Linked DNA regions of Homo sapiens: regions 1, 2 and 4 are each linked to region 3. Evidence: fine-mapped expression QTL. A gene starts in region 3. Each other region holds a variant in brackets. All regions are shown on one strand. Distances are between the middles of the regions. Region 1 has its middle 31 kb from the start of LINC02324. Region 2 has its middle 180 kb from the start of LINC02290. Region 3 holds the start of FUT8 (fucosyltransferase 8). Region 4 overlaps FUT8 (fucosyltransferase 8).

Region 1 (8,106 bases), 160 kb after region 3:
CCAGGATGGTCTTGATCTGCTGACCTCATGATCGGCCTGCCTTGGCTTCCCAAAGTGCTGGGATTACAGGCGTGAGCCACCGCGCCCAGCCAAGTCCCAAGTGTTTTATCAGCACTTTTTCCATGGTGGGCAGCTCCCCTCACTATCTCCACTGCCCCACTCCACTGAAGACCATGTAGCCAGCCTGTACCTAGTGGAGGGCCAGGGACAAGATCACTGCACTAGAATCCAGGCTATCATCTTAGTTGTGGCTCTGATTCTTCCTTCTAAAACGGCAGGTCATCTAACCTTGCTGACTCACAGTTTTCATACCTGTGAAATGGGTATGGTCAAAGAATCTCATAAAGCTGATGAAATAATGTATTCTGAATTATAAAGTGCTATACACATGTAATGACCTGCAGCATGGTTGAGGATTTTAAGGCAGCCTCAGAATATATGATTGATTAGTTATTAAACCAATCAAAACAATGGGAGACAAAAGACCCCATACTTGTTTACTTGAAGATTATCTCCAGGCTGAAATGTTTTGGTCAGAAAGTCACAAATGAGCATGCTCAGAAGGTGCCTGTGAACTGGAAAATGCCCAGGGCTTCTGAGTAACCCACAGTCCCATTCCCCTTAACAAATGCTGTCGGGATGCCGATGAAAAACTGAGCAAGAGCCCAGCTCAAGATCTGAGGTCTGGGGACTCTGCACACCCTTCATTGTCCTTGGGTTAATCATCTGACAGCCCAACATCCAGGAGACAGCAGGCATCTGCAGGAAGGGCAAGGCGTGCTGGCCCCACAAGTGGCAAGAAGGACAGGTAAATCATTCAAAAGCACCACATGAGGCAACCAGGATCAAGGGGCAGCACCCAGAGATCAGGGTGATAAGGGAGGGCTGAGAGAGATAAGGAGCCTTGGTTGTCCCTCCTTATAGCTTCAGGTCACCTTAGCCAAGTCTCCTGGCTTCTCTTATCCTCTGGGCCCTTAACTGTAAGAGTAGGGAGTTGGTCTCAATGATTTCAAAGGTCTTTTCAGCTCTGGGTGGGAAGATACTATCTAAATCCAAGCTGCATGAACATCTGCTGTTCTTGTTTACCTCTGAGCCAAGTCCAGAAGCCCAGGAGTCCCAGTGCCACCTGCAGGGCTGTGGCAGATACAAGCTGCAGGGGACCACCAGGGCTGAATGGAGGGTGAGCTCCACGGAGGAGGCTGGGGTGGGCTGCCAGGGCCTCCTTCCTGCAGAGCAACTCAAAGATCTTTCCCGCATGTTCTTATTTGAAACTTCCCACTCTCTGGTGAGATGAGGAGGTATCGTAGCCCTCCACGTGTGACCACAAGGTACAGCGAGAAGGCTTCTGGAAATGAAAAACTAAGTTTAAGGACACCTCAGGACTTGAGATAGGAAAGAGGCATCCCTGTCACAAGGCTCTCAGGCTGCCAGGCAGGTTTTGCAAGTTTGCAAGAAAGCTTCCCCAGCACTGCTCAGCTCCCACCTTCTTTCTCCCTGTCCCACTCTCATTGGCTGGCTGGCTCGCTGCCACTCAGCCTGGAGTCAGCCCTCCTATTGTGCTCCTCTGTCACAGTGCTCCGCTGAGGCACCTGTGACAAGATAATTAAGATATTAATTTGTTTACTGTGTTTTTCCATTGCCGTCTTTTCCCAAGCAGGTACTACAAGTCAGCTTTTTTGGTTTTTCTTGCCTTACGAATCCTTGCAGGACAGAAAGCAGAGCTGTTTGAAGATAACAGATCTTCATGCCTTGGGTAAAAGTCCTGGCTCCTGATGAGATGATGCAGATACCCAGAGGGAGATAGGCGGGAGGGGGACAGGGAGAGGGGAGCCTTGAAGGACAAGGAAAGACAGAGGAGAGTGCTCAGAGACCAGAAAGATAGAAACCAAAACAAAACAGAAAACCTGTCTCACTCTGAGAATGGAGCCCTTTCCAGAGCCCCAGGAGACATCCAGATCTCGGGGAAATTTTAGGCCTTGGGCATTGAGTCTCCAGTCTCACCAAAGATTTCCTGGGCCCCATGTATGACTCAGCAACAGCAAAATCAACAAACCAGAAGGGATGTGAGGCATCAAAGGAAAACTTAGGGCAGATCACCGGCTGATGACTGGTTGGGAGGCCCCCACACTTTTGCCCAGGTAGGCACAATATTTCAGGGGAGAGATTGCACTTCCAGAATGACAGATTAATAATCTGCCCAATGAACAGGACTGGGGGCTCAAGGTTAGATTCATTTTGATTTAAAAAACGGAGGCTGGGCGCAGCGGCTCATGCGTGTAAGCCCAGCACTTTGGGAGGCCATGGCGGGTGGATCACCTGAGGTCAGGAGTTGGACACCAGCCTGGCCAACATGGCAAAACACTGTCACTACTAAAAATACAAAAAAAAGCCAGGTGTGGTGGTGCACATCTATACTCCCAGGTACTCAGGAGGCTGAGGCAGGAGAATTTCTTTTTTTTTTTTCTTTTTCTTTTTTTTTTTTTTTTTTTTTTTTGAGACACAGTATCGTTCTGTCGCCCAGGCTGGAGTGCAGTGGCACGATCTTGGCTCACTGCAACCTCCGCCTCCTGGGTTCACGCCATTCTCCTGCCTCAGCCTCCCGAGTAGCTGGGATTACAGGCACCCCCACGGCCAGCTAATCTTTTTGTATTTTTAGTAGACATGGGGTTTCACTATATTGCCCAGGCTGGTCTTGAAATCCTGACCTTGTGATCCACCCACCTTGACCTCCCAAAGTGTTGGGATTACAGGCATGAGCCACTGTGCCTGGCGAGGCAGGAGAATTTCTTGAACCTGGGAGGCAGAGGTTGCAGTGAGCCGAGATTGTGACATTGCACTCCAGCCTGGGTGACAGAGCAAGACTCTGTCTCAATACATAAATAAATAACAAAACAGAAATACAAACAAAAGACAGAGAAATCCAATTTTCCTACCTCAGCTGGGTTGTAGAGTCTCCCCTGACATGCAGAGAAGAATGAATGACCCCTTTGTCCTGGTCCCCCCAGCCTGTGAAGATACCAGTTACACCTCCTTAGTACCCAAATCTTAGCTCTAAGCTCCTACCAGTTAATGCAGGAAATCTGTCCCATACTCTCTGTTGGTTAGGATGCCTTAGCCATAAGTAATAGAAAACACAGATTCAAACATGTAAGGAAATGTATTATCTCATATAATAGTTAGTCTAGAAGTAGTGGGTTCCAGGTGTGGTACGATGAGTGGCTCAAGGTGTCCTCAAGGAGCCAAGCAGCCTCCATTTCTCTGCTTTTCTCTCCGCAGGACATTGGCTTTTTCCTTCAGCTGGCTCCCTTTGTGGTAATACGACGTCTGCACCAAACACAATAACACGCAGAAAAAGAAAGCTTTCGTGTTTTTTCAGAAGCATGGAAGCTTTTACCAGCAGTCTCCTGTAGAATCTTCTTTTTGTACCATTAGCCAGAATTGGATACATGCCCATTCTTTAGCTAGTCCCTCCCAAGGGGAATGGAATTACCATGGTTGATGTGAAGGGAAGCTAAAGAGTCAACCTCAAAGAACACTTCAAAATACTTCCATCTCCCAAATACAGCCTTGCTCACTGTGAGTTCACAGACACCTTCTCGCCCCATGGCTGAGTTAGGTTCCTTCTTCATTTATGTTGAATTCCCTCTTTTGCGTCCTTGTATCCCTTTCTTATAACCTGAAAGGCTCTCATGCTTATCAGTTTATGAATCACTAATGTGAATGCAGCTCAAGATTTTTTTTCCCAGGTCCATCTCACGGTGGGTCCAGTGGATCCCCAAAGACATCCTGTGATTATTTCCCCAGTTCCAGAATGCATAATTGAAATGGATACACTCAGCAGCTG[A/G]CAGATCCCCACATTGGTTCCCTGACTTGTGGAGGAAGGGCTATTCTGGTGGGAAAGGCCAAGTGGAAGACACTAGAACTGCCTCTACCTAGGAAAAGAGTAAGCCAAAAGCAATACTTAATTCCTGGAGGGACTGCAGAGAGTAGGGCCATCATCAAGGAGGCAGGGGTGGCAATTCCCACCACATTCTTATTCCACATGCCCATTTGGCCTGTGCAAAAGACAGATGGAGAATGACAGTGGATTACTATGAACTTAACCAGGTGATGATTCCCACTGCAGCTGCTGTACCAGATGTGGTTGTATTGCTGTTGTGGTTTTATTTCGGATGTGGTTTCATTTAATGAGACTTCTAGGGGTCCAGTGGTATGGGGCATGTCAAGATATCTCTTCTAAGGTGAAGGACACCTTGTAGCATCTGGCCCCTCCTACAACCAAAAAAGAGGTGCAATGCCTAGTAGGCCTCTTTGGATTTTGGAGGCAACATGTTCCTCATTTGGGTGTGTAACTCTGCCCCATTTACCAAGTGACTTGAAAAGCTGCTGGTTTTGAGTGGAGTCTAGACAAGGAGAAGGCTCTGTAACAGGTCCAGGCTGCTATGCAAGCTGCTCTGTCACTTGGGCCATATGACCCATCAGATCCAATGGTGCTTGAGGTATCAGTGACAGATAGGGATCTGTCTGGAGCCTTTGGCAGGCCCTCATGGGTGAATCACAGTGGAGGCCTTCAGGATTTTGGAGCAAGTTCCTGCCATCATTCACAAATAACTACACTCCTTTTGAGACAGCTCTTGGTCTGCTACTGGGCCTCAGTAGAGACTGAATGTTTGACCATGGGCCACCAAGTTACCATGTGACCTGAGCTGCCTATCATGAACTGGGTGCTATCTGACCCACTAAGCCATGAAGTTGGATGTGCACAGCAGTACTCCATCATCAAATGGAAATGGTATATAGGTGGTCAGGCTCAAGCAAGTCCTGAAGAACAAGTAAATTACATGAGGAAGTGGCCCAAATGCCCATAATTCCTACTTCTGCTTCACTGCCTCCTCTCTCCCAGCCTGCACCTATGACCTTGTTGGGAATACCCAATGATCAGTTCACAGAAGAAGAGATCAGGCCTGGTAATAGTTCTGCACAATGTGCAGGCACCACCCAAAAGTGGACAGCTGCATCATAACAGCCCCTTTCTGGGACATCCCTAAAGCAGTAGTCCCCAATCATTTTAGCAGCAGGGACCAGTTTTGTGAAAGACAATTTTTCCATGGAAGGACGAAGGTAGGGGTGGAGGGATGGTTTCGGGATGAAACTGTTCCACCTCAGATCATCAGGCATTAGACTCTCATAAGGAGCACACAACCTAGATCCCTCGCCTACACAGTTCACAATAGGGTTCATGCTCCTATGAGAATCTAATGCCACTGCTGATTTGACAAGAGGTGGACCTCACCCGCCACTCACCTCCTGCTGTGCTGCCCGGTTCCGAACAGGCCACGGACCAGAACCATTGGTTGGGTCTGCAACATGATCATCCTTCAGTTCCCACTGCTCCAGCAAAGCTCAGTGGGCACCAGGGACCCAGGAGGCTGCTGCCTCACGTGGGCCACCTCTAGCACTACAACCCAGGCAGGAGCATCCCAGAGCAAAACAGGCACCTGCAATTGGGGGTCCTCAAGACAGGGGCTCTCCAGGGTCCCAGGGGCAAAGGAGCAGGATCTGCAGCCTTCAAGGGCAATAAGAGAGATCTTAGAAGTCTCCTGTGTCTCCTCTTTGCTTCTACCTCTTGGAGTGGGCAGTTCACTTGGAGTATGCAGTCATCTCAGCCAGGGCAGCGATCTCTTCCCTCTTCCATTAGGAAGAATTCCCTTTACCACTGTCCTTAGGACAGAATTTTGGGCAGAGCACTTGGTTGCACAATGTATTTGGAAGGAGAAATGGCCAGACATGTGGTTATATACTGATTCATAGTAGCCAGTGGTTTCCTGGATGGCCTCAGACTTGTAAGGAACATAATTGCAAAAGTGATGACAAATAAATTTGGGGAAGAGTATGTGGATAGACCTATCTGATTGGGCAAAAGATGTGAAGATATTTGTTTCCCATGTGAATGCTCACCAAACAGTGACCTCAGCAGAGGAGGATTTTATTTTTATTTATTTATTTATTTATTTTTGAGATGGATTTTCGCTCTTGCTGCCCATGCTGGACTGCAATGGCGCGGTCTCAGCTCACTGCAACCTCCACCTCCCGGGTTCAAGCAATTCTTCTGCCTCAGCCTCTCAAATAGCTGGGACTACAGGCATGAACAACCACACCCAGCTAATTTTGTATTTTTTTTTTTTAGTAGAGACAGGGTTTCTCCATGTTGGTCAGGCTGGTCTCAAACTCCCGACCTCAGGTGATCCACCCGCCTCAGCCTCCCAAAGTGCTGGGATTACAGGTGTGAGCCACTGCGCCTGGCCCCTTTCATTTATTTATTTTTCTGAGACAGGGTGTCACTCCGATTGCCCAGGCTGGAGTGCAGTGGCATGATTTTGGTTTAGGTTTACTGCAGCCTCGACTTCCCCAGGCTCAGGTGATTCTCCCATCTCAGCCTCCTGAGTAGCTGGGATGACAGGCACACACCACCACACCCGGCTAATTTTTTTTGTATTTTCAGTAGAGACAGGGTTTCACCATGTTGCCCAGCTGGACTCAAAACTCCTGGCCTCAAGCAATCCACCCACCTTGACCTCCCAAAATGCTGGAATTACAGGTGTGAGCTGCTGCACCCTGCCACAGAGGAGGATTTTAATAATCAAATAGATAGGATGACTAATTCTATGGACACCAGTCAGCCTCTTTCCACAATCATCCCATCATCACCCAATGGGCTCATGGATAAAATGGCCATGGTGGCAGAGATGAAGGTTATGCATAGGCTCAACAACATGGACTGCACTTACCAAGGCTGATTTGGCTACAGCCACCACTGAGTGTTCAATTTGCCAGCATCAGAGACCGACACTGAGTCCCTGATATGCCACTGTTCCTCCAGCTAAACAAACAGCTACCCGGAGGCAGGCTGATTACATTGGATGGCTTCCATTATGGAAAGGGCAGCATTTTGTTCTTATTGGAATAGACACTTTGAATATGGATTTGCCTTCCCTGCATGCAATGCTTCTGCCAAAACTACTATCCGCAGACTTATGGAATGTCTTATCCTCCGTCATAGTATTACACACAGCATTGCTTTCAATCAGGGAGCTCACTTCACAGCAAAAGAAGTGCAGCAGTGGGCCCATGCTCATGAAATTCACTGATCTTACCGTGTTCCACACCATCCTGAAGCAGCTGGTTTGAAAGTACAATGGAATGGCCTTTTGAAGACTCAGTTACAGTGCCAGCTCAGCGGCAATACTTTGTAGGTCTGCAGCAAGGTTATCCAGAAGGCTGTATATATGCTCTGAACCAGAGTCCAATGTATGGTGTTCTTCTTCCCATAGCCAAGATTCACAGCTCCAGGAATCATAGAGTAGAAACACCCACTATTATCACTAGTGCCCCACTAGCAAAATTTTTGCTTCCTATTCTCATGACCTTATGCTCTGCTGGCTTAGTGGTCTTAGTTCTGAAGGGAGGAATGTTTCCACCAGGAGACACAACAATGATTCTATTGAACTGGAAGTTGAGACTGCCACCTGGCCACTTTGGACTCCTTATGCCTCCAAATCAACAGGCAAAGAAGGGAGTTACTGTGCCGACTGGCATAATTAATCCTGACTACCTAGGGGAAATTGGACTGCTACTCCACAGTGGAGAAAAGGAAGAGTTTGTCTGGAACACAAGTGATCCCTTAAAGCATGTCCTGTGATTAAGGTCAATGGAAAACTACAACAATCCAATCCGGGCAGGACTATGACTGGCTCAGACCCTTCAGGAATGAAGGTTTGGGTCACTTCAAAGGTAAAGAACCATGCCATCTGAGGTGCTTGCTGAAGGCAAAGGGAATACCTAATGGATAGTGAAAGAAGCTACAACTATGTGACTGGTTACAGAAATAAGGACTGTAATTTTTAAAAATTTATTTATATATTTTATTTATTTATTTATTTATTTATTTATTTATTTATTTATTTATTTATGTGAGATGGAGTCTTGCTCTGTTGCCCAGGTTGGAGTACAGTGGCACCATTTCGGCTCACTACAACCTTCATCTCCCAGGTTCAAGTGATTCTTCTGCCTCAGCCCTCCAAATAGCTAGGACTAGAGGCGTGTACC
Region 2 (8,106 bases), 520 kb before region 3:
GTCGCCCAGGCTGGAGTGCAGTGGCGCAATCCTGGCTCACTGCAACCTTCGCCTCCCAGGTTCAAGCAATTCTCATGCCTCAGCCTCCTGAGTAGCTGGGACTATAGGTATGCGCAACCACACCCGGCTAATTTTTGTATTTTTTGTAGAGATGAGGCTTCACCATGTTGACCAGGCTAGTCTCAAACTCCTGACGTCAAGTGATCTGCCCGCCTCGGCCTCCCAAAGTTCTGGGATTACAGGCATGAGCCACCATACCCGGCCCACATTTCCTTCTATTATAAGGACATATGAATCTGGTGGTGGTGGGGAAGGACACAATGCAGCCCATACTAAAGCCTCTTACATATGAAAGTCCAGATGCTCCCACAGGAAAAAAGGAGAAGCTGCTGTTTGACACTGGTGCCCAGGGGAAGTGTCTTGGGGTTCTATCTGTCCTTACACCATTAGTTACATGCACTTGCATTGCAACCCCCCGGGGGTAATGTTGCCCCTGTGATAACCATAGGATCACCTTTCTCAGAAGCCAGAGCTGATCTTTCTAATGTCAGGTAATGTCAGGCCACTGGCTGACTTCCCAGAGCTGACAGGTCACTTGCTCCCCAACCTCACAAAGGAGAAAGGCAAGAGAACTTCCTCCCCAAGAGCCTTGGACAGTCCTGGCTGGTCCTTCCTCAGTCTCTCTCAGCTGCAGAAGCACAAGCCAAGGCACTAAGGAGTTAGTATCAGAAGATCCCGTGATGAGCCTAGTCCATGAAACTCCTTCCAATATGGTGCAGAGGCAGGGCTGGTCCTTGGCAACACCTTCAATAGTATCCTTTTACATATTTGCCTCCCTCTTTGAACATCCTCTAATTTCAAAATCGTTCAGGGCTAATGCCATAGTGGACGGGCCTCCATGATTCATATGCCCAGGTGATTCCTACTTTTTAAGAGACTCAAGTGTATGTTGGGGTGGGGTGGGGTGGGGTAGGACAAAACCAATCCAAAGGAGTTAATCTCTAATGCTGGAATTTCAGATACTAGGAAATTCTAGGTTAGGAAACTATTTGAGAAGTAGCAGAACCTTCCTTGGCCATTCAAATCACCTCTGGACAAGAGATACTGATGTTGGCTACAGTATTCCTATCATTCAAAAGCTACCACTTCCTCTGTGGAACAACTCTTGTCCAAAAGGGACATCAGTGAGAGGGGTTAGGATCTGACTTCAGATGATGTTGACTCCAAGTTATTGATTCCAGGCTAGGGAGCAAGCTAGACAGTGACCGTCTCCAATAATGAACAGATGAAGTGAATCAGTGGATTGGTGGGAGGCTAACATGAGGCTCTGGAACTCTGCCACCTGAGTTCCAGTTCTGGGTCGGCCACGTCCTTCCTGCTATACTCTCTATGCCCCGTTTTCTTATTTTAAAATTGGGATAACAGTAATGTCTATTTCATGGCATTGTTAAGGGTTTTAAATGAGATAATACAAGTTCTTAGCATAATGCCTGACTTTTAACAAGCTCCCAGCCAATGTTAGCCGCTGTCATTCCCAAGGGTCTACCAAGTCAGAAGGCCTGAAATCAGGCAAGAGCATGGCAAGCTTGCCTCTCTTCAAAAGTGATGGAGATCTGCAGGAAGAAGGACCCATAATAAGAATTTTTTCTATTAATACAATAAAATATAAATATGCAGAATGAGTATTTATTTATTTTTGAGATGAGGTCTCAACTCTGTCACCAGGCTAGGGTGTTGTGGCATGATCTTGGCTCACTGCAACCTCCACCTTTCAGACTTAAGCAATCCTCTGACCTCAGTGTCCCGAGTAGTCGGGTCCCCAGGTGCATGCCACCAGACCTGGCTAATTTTTTGTAGTTTTGATAAAGACAGGGTCTTGCATTTTGCCCAAGTTGGTCTCGAACTCTTCAGCTCAAGTGATTCCCCTACCTGGACCTCCCAAAATGCTGGGATTACAGTCATGAGCCACTGTGCCCACCCAAGCATTTAAAAATACATAATGCAGAATAGTGGAGGCTTTTCAGGGCAAAATGGAGACAGGCTTTAAAAGGCAAATGCTGATTTTGAATTCCTGGAAATACTGTGAAGAGATGAGGTGAACGCTATCCAGGGGCTTTAGCATTGGGAGGTGATGGTGAGAATAAGAAGGAAAATTAGCCAGGAAAATTTTAACCTTGAAAATCAGAGCCCAAAACAATGGGTCTTAAGTTTTTGGGGATCACAAATCCCTCAGAGCATCTGATAGCTATAAACATTCTCCCCAAAAACCCCTCACATTCACATAAAACTCTAGATATAATCCCAGGGTGACCCTGGACTCCCTAGATCCTGAAGGAACCTGTGACCCCAGATTAAGAATCTCTTATAGAAGGAAAAGCCCACAGATGACATGGCTTGATGTCAGAGAAGATCTGGAAGCATGCGCATAAAGCTCAGACACTGAGCCCGGCCAAATGGGCCCTAAGGAAGCCACCTGGGCCATAGCCCCAGCCTGGCCATGTAGAATGTATATCTGAAAGTGGCCCCCCTGTGGCTATAGAGTTATGTGGACACCTACCAATGGTATGTGCTGGACTCCAAGGACCAAGGTGGGCAGTGGGGTATAGTTGGAGTTGGGGGACAGCAGGGAAGGAGCAGGGAAGGAGCAGAGCAGCCCACGGCAGCAGTCATTTCCCTTTGGTGAAGAAGCCCTCCCCCTGTAAGTAAAGGGAAGTCAGGGAAGTGTGACCTGAACTCAGAGAGGAAGGCTGCAGACCTCACAATGGTGTGCCTGCCACCGCTCTGCAGATCTGTTGGGTTCCTAGAAGTCGCCCTGGACCCCATTCTCTCCCCGCCCTGCTTTCTGGTTATCCCACACATCATCTCCCTTTTGCCTCCTTCCCACCACCCTGGCCCTCAACAGTCACCCAGACTCCTAGGAGTCGCATCCCCACCATCGCTGCCCCTTTAGCCCTCTGGGATTTATGATCCACGCTGCAGCCAGAGTGCTCTCCAGAATCACATCCAGCTTCCTGCGTGCAGCTTCAAAGCTGTGTGGTGGGCGTGTTCCCACCCCCCAGCCACTTCTCTTGACCCCACCACCTGATGGGACCCATTGGCTGAGCACCCTGTGGTCCAGCTCCCTTTCGACCCCCCAGGGCTCTCAGCCTCCCCAGCCCCAAACCCTTTGCCTGGCCAACTCTACACATCATTTAGGTCACTTGTCGCCTCCTTTAGGAAGTCTTTCCCAGCCTCTTCTCCACCCCGCAGCATCTCTTACCACTACCCTAAACTCCAGCCAGAGGGACTATGGTCTCTGCAGTCCCCTCTAAGCACTCTCCTGGGCTCCAGGCCATTCCTCCTCCTGCCTCAGCTCAGCTGGTGCCACTCCCTCCAGAGGCCTTCAAAGCCTTCCAGAGGGCTAGGGCTCCCACATGCGCTCAGCTCCTGGCTTTCTCCCTGCAGAGGTCTTGCCTCACCTGTGGGCTACATGCTCTTTCCCAAAAGGGTCTGTGCCTTGTTTACTTGTCCTGGGTAGTATTGGGTTGTTGTGAGGATGAATGAGTGGCATGTAGGTGAAGCACTTAGAACAGTGCCTGGAAAACATCAGGAGCAACTGTTAGTTCTATTATTCTTATTGCTGTTATCATCACCATCATTATTATTATCATTGACTGCTATAACCCCAGTGCCTGATATAGGGAGATATCCAATAAGTTTTTGTTGAATGGATGGATGGAAGGATGGATGGATGATAAAATTGTGTATTATTGCAGTCATCCTCAGTGCTTTTTATTTTCGTTTCAATGCCTTTTTTAAAAATCACTTCGTGTTCTTCAAAATATCCTGGGGAGGATTCTGGATCTGGCAAACCCTGAGGCTGAAGTGTAGAAAGACCATCCAAGAATCACGCCAGAAGGGGACAGAATGCAGCAATCCAGGTCCTTGCACCCCTCTCCTTCAGGATTCACCTTCCAGGAGAGTTTGAGAGGTCTACCTCTCAGATCAGCATTGGGAGGAGATGGGGAGAATTTCAGGACCAAAGAATGGGGTCCCATTGTGCTTCCTGAGTCTTCATGCTCTACTACTGCTGCCCAGGGCAGGGGGTGGGGGCCGTGATTGAGCACATTCAATCCCACTGAGATTTCATTAACTTGCATTCATTTGTGTCACTTAATTATTGTGAACGGGATCCTTCTCTAATAAATGTGTTTTCCTAACCCACAGCCTCTGGGCTATCATTCTAACCATATCTATTATGACTGAATGGCTTCTTGGAAACAGAGTGGCCTTCTTTGTATTTGGAGCTAAGTAGGGCATACTAAAGAGCTTCCCGCCCTCCAGAAAAGGGGGGTGGACAGGCAAGGACTCCGTGCTCTGGGGACCCAGCCTCCCGCTCCTTCATTGTGAATCACCTGCTGAAATAAAGGATCTGGAGCCTGGTGTGTTTATACAGCAGCGCGCCAGGCGACAGCTAAGGTGTTACAC[C/T]GCAGCCTTCCAGGAAGGGGCAGGGGCCTGCTTGTGGGTTTAAATAACACGGCAACTGAGAAAGCTTATTCATCTTGATCTGTTGGCCTCATCAGTGAAGTGAAGGTGCTGAGATAACATCAAGCGAAAAGCAGCCCCACCCTGGGGGAAAATTTAGATCCTAGGTCTTTCTCATGAACATTCCTATTTAAAAGGAATTCTGTGCCTGCGCAGGGTTTTGTTTCCCTCTGCAAACTCCCTCTGTTTGAGTTAGAATTCTTCTTTCCTCTCTTGCCCTCCAAAATAGATCTCACTGGGCAGCAGAAGCTGGGTTCTTAAAAACAAGCAATTGTATTTAATTGCAAACTCCACAAACAAATGAGCAGCTGTATCTGTATTGATGAATGAATGTCTTTTGTCTTTACAGATACTTTAAAAAATGCATAGTCAACAGAGAACTGTATGCTATTTGGGAAATAGATTTACCTTCTTAATTATATTTTTACTTGTCCTTAGATTAAAATTAGTTTGCTTTGCCTGAGCTGACACTGCCTTGGGTGGTGAGAGATGATTAGAGAGAATCCTGCGGGGAGGAAAAGCTGATCTGATATGAAATATCTGGGGCCAAGGTCCTGTAGGGGGATGGTCTTTGAGGACTCAAAGAGCTGAGGGTTACTTGGGGCTCCTTTCCCTCAGTTTTACAGAAGGTACTTCTGGCTGGCAAAGATGTCACTGATCAGTTTTCAGGAGGAATTATTGTGGCTCACTGAAGAAGGTGTCTCTCCAAACTCACAGATCCTAATGATCACTTTATCAACAGAGAAATGAAATCTAGGATGGGGTCTCTGTGCTTGGCCGGAGACCCTGCATCCTCTTTAGCCAGGATTCTCTTGTGGAGATAAGGAGCTTCATCAGTAATTGTGGATCTTACTAACTCCACCCAGCTAAGACTTGAAGTTCTGGTCTAAATGAGCAACAAACATTGAGGTTGTTGGGGTTTTACAAGCCCTCCCAGCCCTTGTGCTGGCAAAAGAGGAAGCCTGTGCATGAAAGCCAGACTTTGCCATAGCAATGATGCAACTCCATGAGTGGAAGAACACCAGGGTTCTTCGTCTCAAGTCGAATTAGATAAAATAACACGGACACACGTGGAGTCGTTTTAAGGACTGGAGAGTTTAATAGGTAAGAAAGAAGGGAAAAGAAAGAAAGCAGCAGCTCCCCTGTACAGAGATGGGGGGGGTAGGGGGCGGCTCCAAAGCGAGAGAGGGGACCCCAAGTACGCAGAAACCAGCCAGGTATATGGAGAGGCTGGAGGAAGCAGTATCTGATTTGCATAGGGCTCAGAGGATTGGTTTGACCAGGCATGTCATTCACGTAGCCCTTGAAAAAACTGACTCTCCCACCCTAGCCTTTTAATATGCAAATACAGGGCGCCATAATGTTCTACACACGTGGGGATATGTGGGGGCAGCCATGTTGCCAGGAACATGTGGGGCAAGGGGAAGAAGGAGGCAGGCAGCAGGAATCCTCTTGTTGGGGTGGACCCAGTTTCTAATGGCCAACATTTGCATATGAAAGATTGCCTGCCCAGCTCTAAGAGCCAGGGCTTTCCTGCTAGACAAGAAATGTTTCTGGAGCTGCTTTAAAAGAGATGAAAACTTTCCAAGGACCGCTTTTCCTATCTGCCTAGAACAATTTTTAATACCTCCTATCGCAGCAAGTCCCCATGTAGTGGGACAGCAGAAAGTGTGTTCAGCAAGGAAGAGGTGCTGTGCCTTACTTCCAGCCTCACCTGCATAAACCTTCTGCTCCAGCCTTCATTCTCTCTTATCCAATGTGCTGGCCTATTAGAAGATCTAACAGGTAGAGACACTAAAGAAGGTTCTTTTGTGTATGCAAGACTGATCATGGAAAGCCTCTCATGAAACACCAGGTGTGAGCAAAAAATAAACTTCCGTTGTGTTAAACCACTGATATTTGGGAATTCGTCTGTTACAACAGCTAGCATTACTTAACTAATAAATCTTCATATTTAGGAAGTAATAGGGAACAGCTTTCTCTAAGTTATAGTTTCTTCCTCCCTTCCAATGACCCATATCTTGTATATACAAAGATGTCTTTGGAATGAATGGAAATTAGTTCATTAGTTCTAGAAAACACAGAAGTTAAGTGAGAGAGAAGTTTATCTCTTCCAAGAATATGTTGAGAAAAGGAAAGCAGATGAAAAGCATCTTGAAAGAGATTTTAAGCTTCTTAGTTGGTAAGAGTGATATTATAAGCCTCTTCTTTATAGTGCTTCCAGTATGTATGGAAAGTGATGAGTGGTGAGAAGTGGCATTACCATCTTATAAAGGAGAAACTGAGGCATGGTGAATGCTTTGCTGAGAAATCCTTCAAATCAGACCTGCTGGGTTTGTGACCCCCCATTCTACCAGCTTAATGAGACTGTGCAAATAAGACCAGTGTTATAGCCCTATTGAGAGACAGGACTAGCTGGATTTCCTAGGCCAACTAAGAATCCCTAAGCCTAGCTGGGAGGGTGACCACTTACACCTTTAAACACGGGGCTTGCAACTTAGCTCACACGCAACCAATCAGATAGTAAGGAGAGCTCACTAAAATGATAATTAGGCAAAAACAGGAGGTAAAGAAATAGCCAATCATCTGCTGCCCGAGAGCACAGTGGAAGGGACAAGGATCGGGATATAAACCCAGGCATTTGAGCTGGCAACGGCAACCCCCTTTGGGTCCCCTCCTCTTTTATGGGAGCTCTGTTTTCACTCTATTTCACGCTATTAAATCTTGCAACTGCACTCTTCTGGTCCATGTTTGTTACAGCTCGAGTTCACTCGCTGTCCACCACTGCTGTTTGCCACCATCACAGACCTGCCGCTGACTCCCAACCCTCCGGATCCGGCAGGGTGTCCGCTGTGCTCCTGATTCAGCGAGGTGCCCATTGCCGCTCCTGATAGGGCTAAAGGCTTGCTATTGTCCCTGCACGGCTAAGTGCCCGGGTCCATCCTAATCGAGCTGAACACTAGTCACTGGCTTCCACGGTTCTCTTCCGTGACCCACGGCTTCTAATAGAGCTATAACACTCACTGCATGGCCCAAGATTCCATTCCTTGGAATCCATGAGGCCAAGAACCCCAAGTCAGAGAACACAAGGCTTGCCACCATCTTGGAAGTGGCCCGCCACCATCTTGGAAGATGCTCGCCACCATCTTGGGAGCTCTGTGAGCAAGGACCCCCGGTAACACTATCAAAGGAAGTAGGTGGCTGGGTGCAGTGGCTCATGCCTATAATCCCAGCACTTTGGGAGGCTGAGGTGGGCGGATCACGAGGTCAGGAGATCGAGACCATCCTGGCTATCACGGTGAAACACCATCTCTATGAAAAACACAAAAAATTAGCCAGGCATGGTGGCGTGCACCTGTAGTCCCAGCTACTCGGGAGGCTGAAGCAGGAGAATCACTTGAATCCGGGAGGTGGAGTTTGCAGTGAGCCGAGATTGTGCCACTGCACTCCAGCCTGGGCGACAGAGCAAGACTCCGTCTCAAAAACAAAAACAAAAAAAAGTAGGTTAAAAAAAAAAAAAGGAAGTAGGTGTCAGATTCTCCTCTACAGTAATCCCCCTTATCCATGGCGTATATGTTCCAA
Region 3 (8,106 bases):
ATGATTGTAAAACTTTCTTTTATATTTATCAATTTGCTATAATATGAAATGATGTATCCACCATTTAACTAAATCAAGAGATTTATTAAATGCAGTTTATCATAAATCAAAAATAACCATTAATGAAATGGAAGAATCTATTTACTTTATCAGCATTGAGATTCTATTTACATAATGAAGAGCTATGGATAATAAACAGCCCAAACACTATCTGCAAAAAAACCAATATTCCAATGATTTTAATATACATATAACTATCAGTTTCTAGGCTTGGATTTAAAGAATATGTGAATGGAAAGAAGTAAATTAACATACTAATTTATTACAGCTTAGAAACCTAAATGAAATGCCACAGGCCACAAAACAACTGCTTCGTATTCAAAGGCACACATTCAATTTGGTAGATCAGCTGGACGCACTGCATTATACTGCAGGAGATAAGGGTTAAGTGACCTGGGGATATTGTTCTCCAGATGTCTAAAAGGTCCATTTTTTTATTGGAATTATCTCTACTTTAAAAAAAAAAAAAAAAGGAATTATATCTACTTTTGATAAATACCTAGCTTACCACACAATTAATACCTTCGCCCATATAAGATTCTACTTGAAGCTTCGTTTTTGAAATTTTAGGATTGTAGCTATTATAAAAACAAAATTTAAGAACACACAACATGTACAATGGGTCAAGAATACATGCCTTAGATTCTGATGAACAGGACAAGAAGGTTAAGAAAATACTATAACATACTCTAAGTTTGGGGGTACATTTTAGAGATTTTTAAGTGAGAAATCCAATAAATCTTTAAGCATTTAGCTTTCCATTATTGCAGCGCATGAAAAGACTTTTTTAAACTAATTTGTAATACACAATATATTCACTCCACAAATAACTATGTACATATATATGCCCACATCAATTTCCTACTCTTTTAATTAAAAATTTATGTTTCTTTTGGTCATAAAAATCTGGTTTTGGGTGTTTTAAAAGTTCAAACAGCTATTAAGCTATACTTTGCTTTGGCACTAGCTCCCCCTCCAGACCAATGTACTAATATAACAGCATTTTTAAAAATAATAAGTTAACAGTTTTTTCCAATCCACTGGCAAATTTTAAGATTCACCACTTTTAAGGACACTCCAATTGCGTAAAAATAACTGGTAAGAATTTGCAACAAAACAATGCAGGATGTAATCAGAATTAGTTTTGTTTTGTTTTTTTCGATTCCATACATCTTAAACAGAACTGATTTGTAGGAAAACAACTTCAGGTGACTTTTTAAATTCAAAAATATCCTCAAAATATAACCTATATAAGGCCGTACTTTATGGAAATTATTTTGAATCACTATCCTATTACACAAGACACTCTTCAAGTTAACTCACAACTTGACCAAAGATACATTTTTGCATCTGTTTCTGCAATCTATGCAAGTTTCATTCCAGCTGTTCAGCTCTTGAATTCAAATAGAATTCTCAATTTATAAGGCAGCAAAAAGAAAATCCATGTCTTGGAACTACCTTTGTACGTGTCTTATAGCCTATTCATCTCTAACTCCCTGCATTTTTTACACACTAAACCTGTGAAATCACAATTACAAATGCTTGAATTCCCACCTTTTCAATACTACTGTAGTATTTACAAATCAAGTAATTAAGATTTTCTATACACATACCAGATTTCACAAGGACAGCAAGGTACAGGGCCTTATTATTTGGCATAGGGTTTTAAGATGTTTTTACAGTTATTTTAAAGAGCAGAGACTACAACTCCATTATTTCTCATATATCTGATATACTGTAGTGCTTAAATAATAATTTCTCTCCTAAAATACTTTCTATATGATGCACCTATTTAAAGAATTAGTCATAAAACATAGAATGTAAATTTAATCAAGAAAATAAACATGCACCTAACCGCCGGAATAACAAGAAAAAAAAAATCTATAATGAAACCTGCCTACAGTTTTCATAGAGGCAAGCCAGTTAAGTCAGTTACTTGAGATGCGTTTAACTCTAAACTGACACAAAACTTGTGTTGAATTTGTTCCGCAAAACCTTGAAATTTGGGGTTATGTACTACAGAATTTGGCTTTTCTGGGTCCACCTTCCTGAGTGGGTTTAAATAAACTGTGAATAATTAAAACATAGGAAGGAAAAAAACACCACCTGTCCGTGCCTTTAACCAAGGCCTCAATCTATATATTATATGGCAAAATGCTAAAATAAAAGCTCATCCGGGACAAACCCTAAGCATGACACTGCCACTTAAGAAATACACTGCGTCTCTGAAGATTGCAATCCCCACTGTGAAGAAAGAACAGGTGCTGCACCCGACAACCCACTCAATCCTGCAGGACAAACCTCCTAGAACTGATAAATATGGACTCATTTAACCTTCCCAAATAAGTTGATACTCAAAAGCCGCCAGCTCGTCATTTGCACATCAAAAGGGAGTACAGCTGCACTCAAGCCTTTAACTGCCCTGCATCAGTCCCTCGCGGATCTTTGTGAGGGTCCACTCCCTGCTTTCTAGCCCGAGCAGCACTCAGAAAGAGCCCATAACGCACGGGCATCTTCCTCCCCACAAACCGCGACTCCAGGGACCGAGCTGCTGACGAAGGGAAGGTAGGTGTGGAGGGGAAACGACGGACACCTCCCACCCCCGCCCCCAACCCTTCTCCTTCCCTAGGCTTTGGCCCCTGCCCTAGGCAAGGATGCGCGACGCCGAGGGCAGCAGCGGCGCAGCTCCGCGTCCCGGCTGGAGAGGCGGGCGCCCCTCACCCTCTGCCCGCGCCCCCGGGGCTGCGCCAAGGCATCCGCCAGAGCGTCCCGGGGGCTCCCTCCCCACTTTTCCGAGAGCCGCTGGTTAACCGGCAGCAGTTGCAGCAACAGGCCCGGGTGAACGAGCAGGGACAGCCGCGGAGCCTCCTCAGATCCCGCGCGCAGCCCAGCCCAAGACCCCGAGGCGCGCGGGGCCCGGCTCCCAAAACGCCCCCTTACCCCAGGCGGGAGCAGAGGCGGTCTCCGCCGCTCCCCGTCGCAGCTGCCAAAGCCACAGCCCTCAGCCGCAGCTGCCCCACGATGGGGGAGTGGGAAGGGTGGCTGAGTGGAGGATGCTACTCCCGACCGAACGGAGAGGAAGAAACGGAAACAGGAACCGCCGCCGCCGCTTAACGGAGCCTTCGGCGCCACTGACTGAGGCAGAGCGCGAGGCGGCGCGAGCCGGGCAGTCGCTGACAGCGCGAGACCGAGAGCGAGCTGGGTCCAGGGCGCGCGACCCTGAGCAGTGCCGGCCCCATTCCGCGGGGAGACGAAGGGACGGGTCGGCTGGGGCCAGGCGGCGGGGGTGGGATGGGGAGGGGGCCTGGAGAGGAGGGAACCGGCTGCTCGGGTCGGCCGGAGATAACGCGCGCACGCGCCGGAGCGGCTCTGACAACGAGCGCAGGCGGGGAAGCCTCGGCCAGCGCCGGCGTGCGCGCGCGAATGGGGGAGCGCGCCCCTCGGCGTTCCTGGCTTCTGGGAGAGGGCGCGCATGCGCCGGCCGCTGCCACCTACGGCGACCCTGGCATGTGCCAGGGATTCTCCCCGCCCCCTTCCTCGCTGCGCCGGTGGAGAGCGTAGCAGCAGCATCCACCGCCTAGCAGAGCCGCGGGCCACAGCGGGACGGCACAGTTCCAGCAGGGCAGCGGCTGCGCACGCCGGCTCCGGCTCGCACACAGGCGTAGGCCGCCCTCTACCGCCTGAAGGCCGGAGGCTGAGCGGGGCGCGAGCGGATCCTGGATCCCGGGAGGAGACTCGCCTCCAGAGAATGCTGTGCTCCCTACAGCGCCGGGAATGGACCGGCCCGTGCCAGCTCAGTCGGCGGCCCTAGGGGGCACCCGCACTAGAGGTTTTGAAGCTGGCTCCTTGCTACTTTTAGGGGTGCGCGCTGCTGCTGCTCAGCCCCTGCAGCCCGCATTTGGCCGCTTGACTGCTGCTTCCAGCGCGATCCTACAATGGCATCGCTCCCCCAGGAGACTCAGCGAAGCCCTACTTTATCTTGTAAGAGCTGTTTCCACATTCACTCGAAGAGAAAGACCCCCCCCACGAGGGCCTGAGTTCGATGCCCGGCCTCTCCCGACCCGCGGCTGCGACAGCCCCTCTGAGGCGGAAGTTTATTTAGTACGGGAAAGAGAACAGCACGGGGAGAGGGGAGAGGCTTTGCCCTAGGATGCGTCCTACCCGCTCGGACTCGGAAAATTCCCGGCGCCCGCGATGCAGAGCAGTGGACCGAAGGGCTGCCCCAGAGCAGCCCAGACCGCCAGCTGAGCGGGAGGACCGGAGCGCGCCGCCCCAGCACACAAAGTAGTCGCGGGACGAGGGGTGCCGCCGAGGCCAATCAGAGCTGCGCGCCGCGTGAGTGGAGTGCGAGCCGGCCAATCAGAGGGCCGGAAGATGAGCTTCCCGTTCCAAACTCTTCCCTGTAGCCTTGGGACCCAGATCCCAAGCCTGGGGCGCTTTACGGTGGGAGAGCGAAATGGTGCCCTTAAGACAAGAATCATTTCTCTAGGCTTGGGCATTTTAAAGTACATACCGGGGATACTTATCCCAAAGCAAGTAGCGGCGGCCTTTTAGATGTTAAATATTAAAAGATCACAGAAAGGAGATTTAAGAGGCAGTGGCCTGTCAAGGTTGCAATCTGCCTAATATTCATAAATTCACATATTTATTGAGACCTTCTTATGTACCAGGAACTCTATCACAGATACACAAATAAGGTACTGCTGATTCAAAAGAAAATCCCTTGTCCTCAAGCAGCTCAGGTTGTGAGGGAGGCTTTCCTAGACCTTGAGACTCGTATTTATTGTCAGCTCTTTAAACAAAAAGCACTCTATGAAGTGCTGTACTTTACAGTCGTTTTTATGATTATCTCCCTGTGAGAAAAGAAAATTGAAAGGAAAGTAGAGTGACTTGTCCAAGATCACACAGAAGATGTACTAGCAGAGCCAGAATTATGTTCTAGCTCAGTTTGGGTGTCATCATTCAATAAAATAATTCAATAACAATTTGTAAATGCATGGATGCTCTCTCCCATGAGATTTCTGTACTAAACGTATAAGCAGGACAAAATTCTGGTATAAAAGTGACACACTTTGGTTGTTGGAAATGAACACAAATTTTAGACTTATGTGGGATTAAAGGTAAAAATCTTACCAGTCATACTTTAGATAATTTTTAGAAGTCAGAGGTGGGGTGGATATTTACTTCTTAGTTTAAACACAGCATTTTAAAAATATTTTAACAAGCAAGCGTAACTTTTTTTTTTTAAGATAGAAGAAGCAGGAAGGATCACTTAAGCCCAAGAGTTCCAGGCTGCAGTGCCACATCGTGCCTGTCAGTAGCCACTTCAGCCTGGGCAACATAGCAAGACCCTCATGTCTAAAATTAAAAATAAAATTTAAAAAAAAGAACTACTTCTAGTTGGTTAATAATCATGATAGTTTACACTGTATAATACTTTGAGATACCCAAGTACAAAGCTTTACATTTGCCTAAAAATTCCATTTTTGTCTGGTGTTCCATTTTTACTTCCAAAATCCTAGGAATTAAAGCACTTATTTTCCCTACCTCCTTCCAACTGAAAAAAAAAAAAAAAAAAACCTGTCCTAGGAATGTTTTGCCCAGGATTTGGTGCATTTGTATAGAACAGTATAATATACGTTAAAATAACAAATAACTTTGGTATCTCTTGAATACACTCAGAAACTAATTCTTCAGTGGTTTTGAAGTCTGCTTTGTTGAATCAATGTGCTTCTCCACCTGTGATGGAACATTATTATCAAAACCCTTTCCAAGGCAGGCTCAGGATTTAGCTGCCATCCCAAAACTGGAGGTCTCTGTCAAACAACTGATATTTGAGAACAAGTCTTTACACATTAAGTTCCAAGCCAATCATGAATTTCCAGGAAATTCACTTATGAAAGGGAATTTTATACCCTGCCTCTTCTCAGTGTGGATAACAGTCCCAGCTTTTAAAAAATACATTTATTTTACTCTCTCCAGACAAGAAAATTCCTAGAACTCAGTCGTTCTCTTGCCAGGTTAAATTCTGAGAGAGAAGGAATCCCCCAAAAGGTTCTAAACATCACTGGCCATCAGAAAGTATCTGTGTCAAAAGCATTTTTCCACAAGCTGCAGGTCCCACCCTGTTGCTGCGCTCTCTCATTCTCTTCTCCCAACTGCTTGCCTCTGCTGCTCATCACTGCCAGTTTGTAATAGTTGCTTAAGTAAGTACAGGTACTCCACCTCTTACTCCACCCCTCCCTCACCAAACTAGGTTTTGGACCCATCTTTGCTTATCCCAAAAGTTAAAGACAAGTTCTGTTCAACAAAAGATTAGACAGAACAATCGTTATGATCTGTTATACAACAAGTAACAGGGCCTTGTCAGTGCATTGTTTTCTTGTATATAGCCTCGGTCAAATTCTTAACCATCAGCTAGAGCTATGGGGACTCGGGTGTCCCGGGGCAAGAAGGAGTCAACCCTTAGACTATGGAAAAGATCAAAATGAAAGTTAAAGTGAGTACATGAGTGGCCATTTTATTGAGAGATTAGCTAGATCAAAGTTAATGAACGTGAATGCTATCACATTTCCTAAGTTGTGAACATTCATGTAGAAACTGGTTTGAAATTTACTACCATTTTATTATGACTGTAATAAAAATAATAGCCAAAGTGTAATAGTGCTGAGCACCAGGCCTCATGCAAAACTCTTTACCTCCACCATTTAATTCTCAAATCAAACCTTTGAGGTGGATCCTGTTATTACGGTGGGGAGATCTGTGGAGTTCCAGCAAGGGGTTGAGGCACTCAGAAGGCTTAGCATAAGCTACTTACCAAATAGTTTAGAAATTTTTCTATCTCTACCAACGTGTACCAACTGACTGTCAGCCATGGAAGCATTCTGAATAATTGTTAATTGTTCTCGTTGTTTTATAATTGTTGCTCTAGCTACATTTCACTTACAGGATCCGATTTTCCAGGAAGTCATCCAAAGGGCAGCATTGTTATTGCCAAGAGCAAGAAGGGGTGACCTTGAGATAATCATTTTACCCATCTGGGCCTCAGTTTTCTCATTTGTAAAATAAAAGGGTTGGACTAGGTAAGTTTTAGTTGTTCGTCAGTTCTAAAACTATAAATCTAGCCAACTTGACACACCATTGACAATAACTACAAAAATGAAATATAGGGAAAAAAAGTCTATATTTTCATTTTTATTTTTTAGAGACAAGGTCGCAGAATGTTGCCAAGGCTCGTCTTGAACTCCTGGCCTCAAGCTGTACTCTTGCCTCAGCCTCCTGAGTAGCTAAGAATCTATATTTTCAAATTCAATGTGTTTTAAGTCACTTTTGAGCCAGCTCCTTAAACAAACTCTATACCTACTCATTAAAAAGCCAGAGCAAATCTTTCCCATTACAAGAGTAAATGAAGTGATTGATTTAAAGACTGATGAAACTAGCCAGACTATCCCTCCCTATGACTTGCCTCCATGGCTGAAATTTCTGTCTTCTCCACTGGGATAAAGCAGCATATAGTTCACACTATTGATTTCTAATTGAACATTCACTCCCGTCCTTCCTTATTAATAGGGCTGTTTATTTTTGTTTTCATCTGCCAATTCTTTAGGTAACCACCCAAAACTCCAACTACAGAAAGGCAACTCAATTAGCCAATAAATGGGTTCCCTAATATGGTAGGAGATTTATCATGCTTACTCTCTCTTTCCAGACATACAAAAAGATTATATTTTTCCACACCCACCCCCAGATACCCTCCTCCCCTTGCAGTTGGGCTGGACCATGTGACTGACTAGCTATAGCCACCAGTCTGTAGTGGGTTGTGGGCAGAAGTGGTATGTGTCAATTCCAGGTAGAACAGTTCATGGCCAGCGTAAGTCCTTACAGTGTTTACTCTTCTCCAGACTCAAGACCAGTATTATCTTGAAAGTATCGGTAAAGCCTCTCTCGGCTTAACTTCCAAAAAAAAGGACAAGGTAGAGCAGCCTGCCTCCCATTTTCATCTGGTTTTAATAAGAAATACACCTTTGTAGTTTAAGCCACTGAGAT
Region 4 (8,106 bases), 22 kb before region 3:
GAAAAAATGATAAAGAATGGTAAAGCTCTTCCTTTAAATAGACTTCTGGGAAATACCAAATACTTCTACTGACATCTAACTGACCAGAATTTAGTCACAAGGTAGTAACTTGCTACAAGAGAACTTCAGAAATTTGTTCTTTCAGCAAGTGGCAATTGGGCCCTCTATCTAGGTTTCATTAACTTGAGAGAAGCAGAGAATGAATATGTGAGGGGAAAAAAAAAACTGCCTAATTTCTGTTGTAACAGGTCAAAGACAAGAAAGGCAGATGAAGGTAACATGTGAATGTAAACTTTCCTTCTCTAATCTCAAGCTACAAAATGGCTAGACTGAAATATTCTTGATATATTCTTACTTGAGAGAGGAAATGGACAAACAACTTTTGATTTTACTTTAGACAACTTCTTATCCCCTCTCTCCATATTATTATAAAAGCCCATATGAGAAGTAAAAGTGTGAGCCAAAATAGTTTGGGTCAAAGTTTTAAAACCTCTTTACTATACAGAGGTATGAAACCAACATGTCCAACAAACAGAAAACACCAAAGCAGAAATAATTTAAAATCAAAGAAAAAAAATCACTATCACTATAAAGACTCTTCTACAGTTAAGACTTCTACATTACTTCCTAGATCCAGAAACTCAGGCTAAACTCCTCTTCTTTACTCCCTACTCCATTGCTTGCTAAACCTCTCTCCTTGCATCCATAAAGCACATCTAATCTCCTTGGTTCTCCTTCCTTGCTGTTTTAAGGATTTTATTGTAATCACTATGGGTAATAACAAAAAAACATTAAGAAATTATGAAGTTTTTAAAACCTTATAAAATACTCTGGGACCTCAAATATTCTCATTTTACTGGGAAGAACTAATGATGTCAAGTAATATGAATTCATGTACTCTAGTCCCAAAACAGTAAATTGCATTTCTACGACCCTAAACATTAGGTGACGTATTTCAAAGTCTTTCTTTAACACAAGCATGACATGGAGATGGCAGTGGTGGTGTTAGTGGTGATAAGACCAAATTAAGACCTTTGGAGGTCCCAAGTACAGAAAATATAATAGTATAGCCCTCTATTCTCTCCCTATTAAATACAAAATAAAAACAATACTAAACAGCTAACATTTAATCCAATAAATTCTTATTTCTTTCCTAATTCTACTTCAGTATTTTTTTAAATGTTAGGTAGTAAATGCTTTCAATTGTTTTTCAAATTCTTTTCTTTCTGCTTTGCTGATACCCTAAGCTTTTGTTTGATAAAAAGCTGTGGCTAATCAGTACTAAGTGCTAATAAACAGAAGTAAAAGCAGTTGCAACTTGAAGAGGTCTGCTCTACATCAGATATTTTACATGCATTATTTATAATTCTTGTCACATCTATAAAAAGGAGAGATTATCAATCCTGTTTTGCTGATAAAGAATGAACTCAAAGAAGCTAGACAAGATGCCCAAGGTCACTCATGCAGTAAATGGCAGAGTTGAGTACCTGAAATAGGCCTTTATGTCTCCCAGGTCTGATCCATTAGACATACTGCCTGTAGGGCATTTCTTCAGAACTAGCTCCTGGACAAAAATTTCATTTCAGAGAAACATTGAAAAATGCTTTTTAAATGCATCATTTGGTAGTACTCAAATTTTCCATGGAACCTAATCACTGATAATCCTAGATAATAACTGTAAATATATAGCCCAGACTGCTACACTGCACAACTCCAGTAGGAAAAAAGAAAAAAAAATTTTATGTGAATGATGTCCCCTGGAATTGTGTGATACAGTTGAGTGTGCAACCCCAATGCTTGTCAAAGACCTTGTCAGGGCCATTTACTATTCTATTTTGGAAAAAAACTTTTTTTTTTTTTTTTTTGAGAGGGAGTCTCGCTCTGTCGCCCAGGCTGGAGTGCAGTGGCACGATCTTGGCTCACTGCCAGCTCCACCTCCCAGGTTCACACCATTCTCCTGCCTCAGCCTCCCCAGTAGCTGGACTACAGGCGCCCACCACCACACCTGGCTAATTTTTTGTATTTTTAGTAGAGACAGGGTTTCACCATGTTAGCCAGGATGGTCTCGATCTCCTGACCTCGTGATCTGCCTGCCTCAGCCTCCCAAAGTGCTGGGATTACACGTGTGAGCCACTGTGCCTGGCCACTATCATTGTTTTTTAAAGCCAATAAGCATTCTCGGAATGTTAAAGAAAAGTTTTTGTTGTTGTTGTTTTGAGACAGGGTCTTGCTATGTTGCCCAGGGTGATCTCAAACTTCTGGGCTCAAGCGATTCTCCTGCCTCAGCCTCCTGAGTAGCTGGGATTACACACTTGTGCCATCAGGACCAGCTCAAGAAAGATATTTTACAGCCTGGGCAACACAGTGAGACCTTGTCTCTACAAAAAAATTAAAAACTAGCCAGACATGGTGGCACACACCTGTGGTCCCAGCTTCTCGGGAGACTGAGGTAGAAGAACTGCTTGAGTTCAGAGTCGTCTGAGGCTACAGTGAGTGATGATCACACCACTGCACTCCAGTCTGGGTAACACGGCAAGACTCTGTCTTTTAAAGAAAAAAAAAAAAAAAAAAGGGAAGATATCTTAAAGCACACGAAAATAAAAATACACCAAAAGTCAATTGTAAGAAAATGCAAACTAAAACCACATGATATACAACTATACACCTATTATAAGAGCTAAAATTAAAAAAAAAAAAAAGAAAGAAAAAGGAACAGATACTACCAAGTGCTAGTAAGGATGTAGAGCAACTGGAACTCTCAAACATCGTTGGTGGAAATGCAAAATGGTACAACCACTTTGGAAAACAATTTGGCAGTTTCATACAAAATTACACATATGCTTACCATATCATCCAGCAATCTGCTCCTAGGTATTTACCCAAGTGAAATGAAAACTTATGATCACACACAAAGCTATACATGAATGTCTATAGCAGTTTTATTCATAATTGCCAAAAACCAGCAATAAGCTAAACGTCTTTCAACAGACAAATGGATAAACTAACCATGGTACATTCATACCACAGATTACTACTCAGCAATGTAAAGGAACGAACTATTGATACACGCAACATAAATGAATCTCAATGAATTTTCTAAGTAAAAGAGGCTGATCCAAAAGTCTATATAACTACAATGTCACTTACAGTTGGCCCTCCATATCCACTAGTTCCATATCTGAGAATTCAACCAATATGGATAGAAAATATTATAGTAAAAAAAATACAACAAAAATAATACATATAAACAACATAACAACGATGTATATAGTATTTACATTGTATATTATATTTAGCGATGACTGGAGTACCAGGAGGATGTGTGTGTATATGTAAACACTAGGTCATTTTACATAAGGGACCTGAGCATCTGTGAATTTTAGTATCTGAAGGGGTTTTGGAACTAATTTCCCTCAGATAAGGAGTGACAACTGTGTATGACATTCGGAAAAGTAAAATGGTAGCCATAGAGAATAGATCAGTGTTTTCCAGGGCGATGAACTTAGGGGGAGAGGTTAACTACAAATGGGCAGCAGGAGTTCTGTGTCTTGATTATGAGGGTAGATACATATTATATGCATTTGCCAAAATCCATAGAACTGTGTATCGCAGTGTGGATTTTAATGTATTAATGCATAATTTAAAAATGAAAAAAGTTGTATAAAAAATAAAGGAAATATGCCAAATTGGGATAAAAGAAAAAAAAGGTGGGGGGGCTTTTCACTACCAGATCTACAAATGGTTATCCTCTGGAGATAATACAGCTGCCTCCACTGAGCTGTAAAGATAAAATGTAAAACGCTTAACACAGGCTTACCACACAGTAAATTCTTAGTTTTGAATTCTTAAATTCTAGTTCCCTTCCCTTTCCCTGCTTCTCTCTCCTATGTAAGTATTTCTCTTTCACTGTGTCTACTATTGCCTTTTCTTTCTTCTGCCTCTGAAATGGCTTTACATTGTTTTTGCTACTTCAAATTCCTTTTCCCTATTTCTCTGGTTAACAACATCTATCCTCTGGGGAACTGACACTACCCCCGATTTGTGTGGTTCTGATGTTAATGTCAACGACAATTCCCCACAGTGATTAGCCCAGAGATAAGCCTGTCAGAGGCCATCCTAGGGAACTAAGTTCTCAGCTGTCTGAGGCCATGCATCCTTGCCATGAAAGAAGCTTTCTAACATAAGCAGAAAATGAGGCCAACAGGAGAAAAAATAAAATGAAGCTAGAATACTCTGAAGACAGCATCTAAGTTCCTGGATCTGGTTGTTCCTGGACTTCTCCATCTCTATTCTTCCTATTTACATAGCCAATAAATCACCTTTCTGTATAAGGCATTTTAGAATTGTTGTTTTTAATGCTTCCCATTTTAAAATCACAAAATATTTGGCTTCTCTAAGGAAACAAAAATAGTAAATTCTCTCTTTACTTGCTGTGGCCTTCAGTTATTTTCAGTATTAGTGGCTACTAATATCAAGATATTACCCAACCCCACTGTAGGGCAATCACACACATTTGAAAGAGGTAGAAATAGCTGAGCCTGGTGGCACACATTTTTAGCCCTAGCTACTGAGGAGGCTGAAGCAGGAGGACGGCTTGAGGCCAGGAGTTTCAGGTTGCAGTGCTCTATGATCACATCTGTGAATAGCCACTGTGTTCCAACCTGGGCAACACAGCGAGAGAGAGAGAGAGAGAGAGAGAGAGAGAGAAGAGACAGAAGAGAGGTAGAAATAAAAGATAAAGCCACATATAACAACAGTAGACTGAGAACAGCTGCCTA[G/C]TGAAGATTTACATTACAAATAGTGAAAAACCTTCAAGACAGCTTTTAATGCAAATTATATCAGGTTTTAAATCTTCAGTGCAGGCAGTACTCACTTTTCATTACCTTACATTTTACCACTCTACTCACTTAAAGCTAGGTAATAAAGATATATGTTACTTTGTGTCATTCTGCCATTGCATGCTCTTTCACAAATTTTAATCAATATCTGAAGAAAGGCAATAGCATATGCAAATACGAAAAGCACACAACTGCAGTAAGGATTAAAGAAGAAGTCTCACAAGTTGACAACAAACACATAGCACACTCCTAATAAGCCTTTCTTCAGTTTGTCTTCCTGGAATGCCCCTACTTGTTTTTGATGCTAAGCTAATCATCACTATGTACCATATCCTACTAGAACTTCCTCTGCCACCTCACCCTTCATCATAGCAATTACTGAATTATAATTATATATTTATATGTTAGTGGTAATGAGAACCTAAACTGTTATCAAAAAAAAATGAAACAGAAAAAAGCAGATGAATGAGATAAACACTGTAGTGATAGAATTCGCAGTTTTGTTACAGGATCCCAACACTTACCCAAAGGTAGCCGTTGGGTCAGGGTTTCTGCACTATAGTCTCTTCTGTGGTTGCCAGAAATAGGTTACAGGACAGAGAAACATGTTACAGGAAAGGGGTCCTAATCCAGATCCCAAGAGAGGGTTTTTGGATTTCACACAAGAAAGAATTCAGGGCGAGTCCACAGTGCAAAGTGAAAGCAAGTTTATTAAAGTAAAGGCATAAAAGAATGGCTACTCCATGGGCAGAGCAGTCTCGGGGGCTGTTGGTTGCCTATTTTTATGGCTATTTCTTGATGATACGGTAAATAAGGGGTGGATTATTTATGTCTCCCATTTTTAGACCATACAGGGTAACTTCCTGACATTGCCATGGCATTTGTAAGCTGTCATAGAGCGGTGCTAATGGAAGTGTAGTAGTGAGGATGACCAGAGGTCACTCTCATTGCCATTTTGGTTTTGGTGGGTTTTGGCTGGCTCCTTAACTGCAACCTGTTTTATTAGCAAGGTCTTTATGACCTGTATTTTGTGCCGACCTCCTATCTCATCCTGTGACTTAGAATGTCTTAACTGTCTGGGAATGCAGCCCAGTAGGTTTTAGCCTCATTTTACCCAACTCCTGTTTAAGATGCAATTGCTCTGGTTCACAGGCCTCTGATAGTTTGACAAGCGAATGAATCTGACGGGGAATACAAAGATGATTCACAATTCAAGTTTGGATAATGGGAAGGAAAAGCCAATAATTTAAAAAAAAAAAAAAGGAAAGTAGAAAAAATACATTTTAAAAGAAAAGAAAATTCAAATTTGAGTGGGTTAAGCATGACAGCATGACAATTAGATGACAATCTCCAGCTGGAAACTGACGTTCAGGAACTTACAGTATAGGGGTCACCTGGAAGAGATTCTCACTAAAGCCAAAAGAATAGGTAACATTTCAAGAAAAAGAATCTAGAGAATGAAAAACATGTAAGGCAAATACTTGAGAAACAAGTTGACTTTGTAAATGAGCCAAGAGGACAGCAAAGTTATAAGGAGAAGGGAGGAGGAAAAGTGGTTCACAGTGTTAAATCTGAAGCAACAAGACTGAAGAATCCCCATTTGGCAATTCAGAAGGTCACTGGTAACAACAGAAAGAACAGTTTTAGTAAAAAATAAGGTAACCAAATTGAAACAACAGACATAAATTGTTTTTTTTCCTTTGGCCTGTTGCACAGTATTTAAAAATAATAATAATAAGGAAAGGTTTTTGTTTAAGCCATTAAATTGTTGCTAGGGAAGATTAAAATAAAAATGATAAAAGAGTTAATTAATGATCCTATACATTCTAACAGTAGAAGGGATAAAAGAGGTAGCCATGAAAACCTAAAGGGCATATTGCATATCCCTGACACCAAATGGGAGACAGAACTTACACAATTTAGAGAGAGAGAAAAGCAAAGCTGAAGAAGCTTCTGTTGGATAGTCTTGATCTTACATTAAAAAAAAAAAAAAAGTGAACCTACAAAGTCTAAGAGCAGTACACTGGAATCAGGCCCTAGGAAGAAGTAGAGTGGTGGCTCACGCCTGTAATCCCAACACTTTAAGAGGCTGAGGCAGGCAAATCACTTGAGGCCAGGTGTTCAAGACCAGCCCAGGCAATGTGGCAAAACCCAGCCTCTACAAAAAAAATACCAAAAAAAAGCCGGGTATGGTGACGCATGCCTGTAGTCCCAGCTACTCCAGAGGCTAAGGCAGGAGGATCACCTGAGCCCAGGAGGTTGAGGCTGCAGTGAGCTGGGATTGCGCCACTCCCCTTAGTCTGGGCAACAGAGCATGACCCTGTCTCATTTGAGAGAAAAAAAAAAAAAAAAAAAAGGCCGGCGCAGTGGCTCACACCTGTAATCCCACACTTTGGGAGGCCGAGGAGGGTGGATCACCTGAGGTTGGGAGTTTGAGACCAGCCTGACCAACATGGAGAAACCTTGTCTCTACTTTAAAAAAAAAAAAAAAAATTAGCCGGGTATAGTGGCGCATGCCTGTAATCCCAGCTACTCCGGAGGCTGAGGCAGGAGAATCATTTGAACCCGGGAGCAGGAGGTTGCAGTGAGCCGAGATCGCGCCACTGCACTCCAGCCTGGGCAGCAAGAGTGAAACTCTGTCTCAAAAAAAAAAAAAAAAAAAAAATTAGTAGAAAAGGTCTGAAATAGCCCCTATAGGAAGTGGAAAAGAATTGCCAATCAATGCAACCAAGTATTTTAGAGCACATTTTCTCATTAATTGCTCATCTCATTTTTTACTTAACTTGTAGGATACAAATTCTTCAGTCTATTTGATCTGATATCCCTTTTTTAAAGAGAGCTTTCTATATCCCATCTAATGATGTTCTGTACGTCTACTTTTCCATTGTAAATTACCCCATCTATTCTTTGCTATGTTACAAAACTTTTAATTATTCTTCCTGCTTTAATGTGGTTCTAGTCTTGCTCTCATGCTCTGTACAAATATCAAAGTAGTATTTGATTACACAAGAAATCCTTAATGTCTATTTTCTTAAAGACAAGTATTCAAGAGAACTATATAAAGAAAAGGAATTCTAAACCTAGAAATGGCTATATCTTCTGACGGCTGCTCATTTACTATTATGACTAAAAATAAAAATTCCCCAGGAAAATATGAACGATGATCTTTAATATTTTGAAGCTTCAGAACAGAAAAAGTGTCTCTTTTCATTTACATTGACATTTTTCCAATTACACAACTCATATTTCAGTATTTTATATGTATTAA

The links.
Region 1: its variant is fine-mapped to the expression of FUT8 in whole blood (TOPMed, PIP above 0.99).
Region 2: its variant is fine-mapped to the expression of FUT8 in whole blood (TOPMed, PIP above 0.99).
Region 4: its variant is fine-mapped to the expression of FUT8 in whole blood (INTERVAL, PIP above 0.99).

What each region holds. Positions count from the first base shown.
Region 1 is chr14:65,249,077-65,257,182 of GRCh38, reverse strand. No RefSeq gene overlaps it. Among named protein-coding and RNA genes, the nearest start is that of LINC02324, 31 kb to the right of the region's middle. RefSeq lists an enhancer at 1,209-1,710. The variant A/G (reference allele first, on the strand shown) is at 3,845.
Region 2 is chr14:65,924,472-65,932,577 of GRCh38, reverse strand. No RefSeq gene overlaps it. Among named protein-coding and RNA genes, the nearest start is that of LINC02290, 180 kb to the left of the region's middle. RefSeq lists an enhancer at 3,043-3,580. The variant C/T (reference allele first, on the strand shown) is at 4,468.
Region 3 is chr14:65,408,109-65,416,214 of GRCh38, reverse strand. It overlaps FUT8 (fucosyltransferase 8), which reads right to left and starts at 3,485. Exons shown (of 11, transcript NM_001371533.1): 1 at 3,001-3,485. It overlaps FUT8-AS1 (FUT8 antisense RNA 1), which reads left to right and starts at 3,598. Exons shown (of 1, transcript NR_024334.1): 1 at 3,598-5,623. RefSeq lists enhancers at 2,180-2,744, 3,987-4,306 and silencers at 2,667-2,856, 2,867-2,986, 3,287-3,446.
Region 4 is chr14:65,430,388-65,438,493 of GRCh38, reverse strand. The region is part of intron 1 of FUT8 (fucosyltransferase 8); the gene reads right to left. Among named protein-coding and RNA genes, the nearest start is that of FUT8, 22 kb to the right of the region's middle. The variant G/C (reference allele first, on the strand shown) is at 4,779.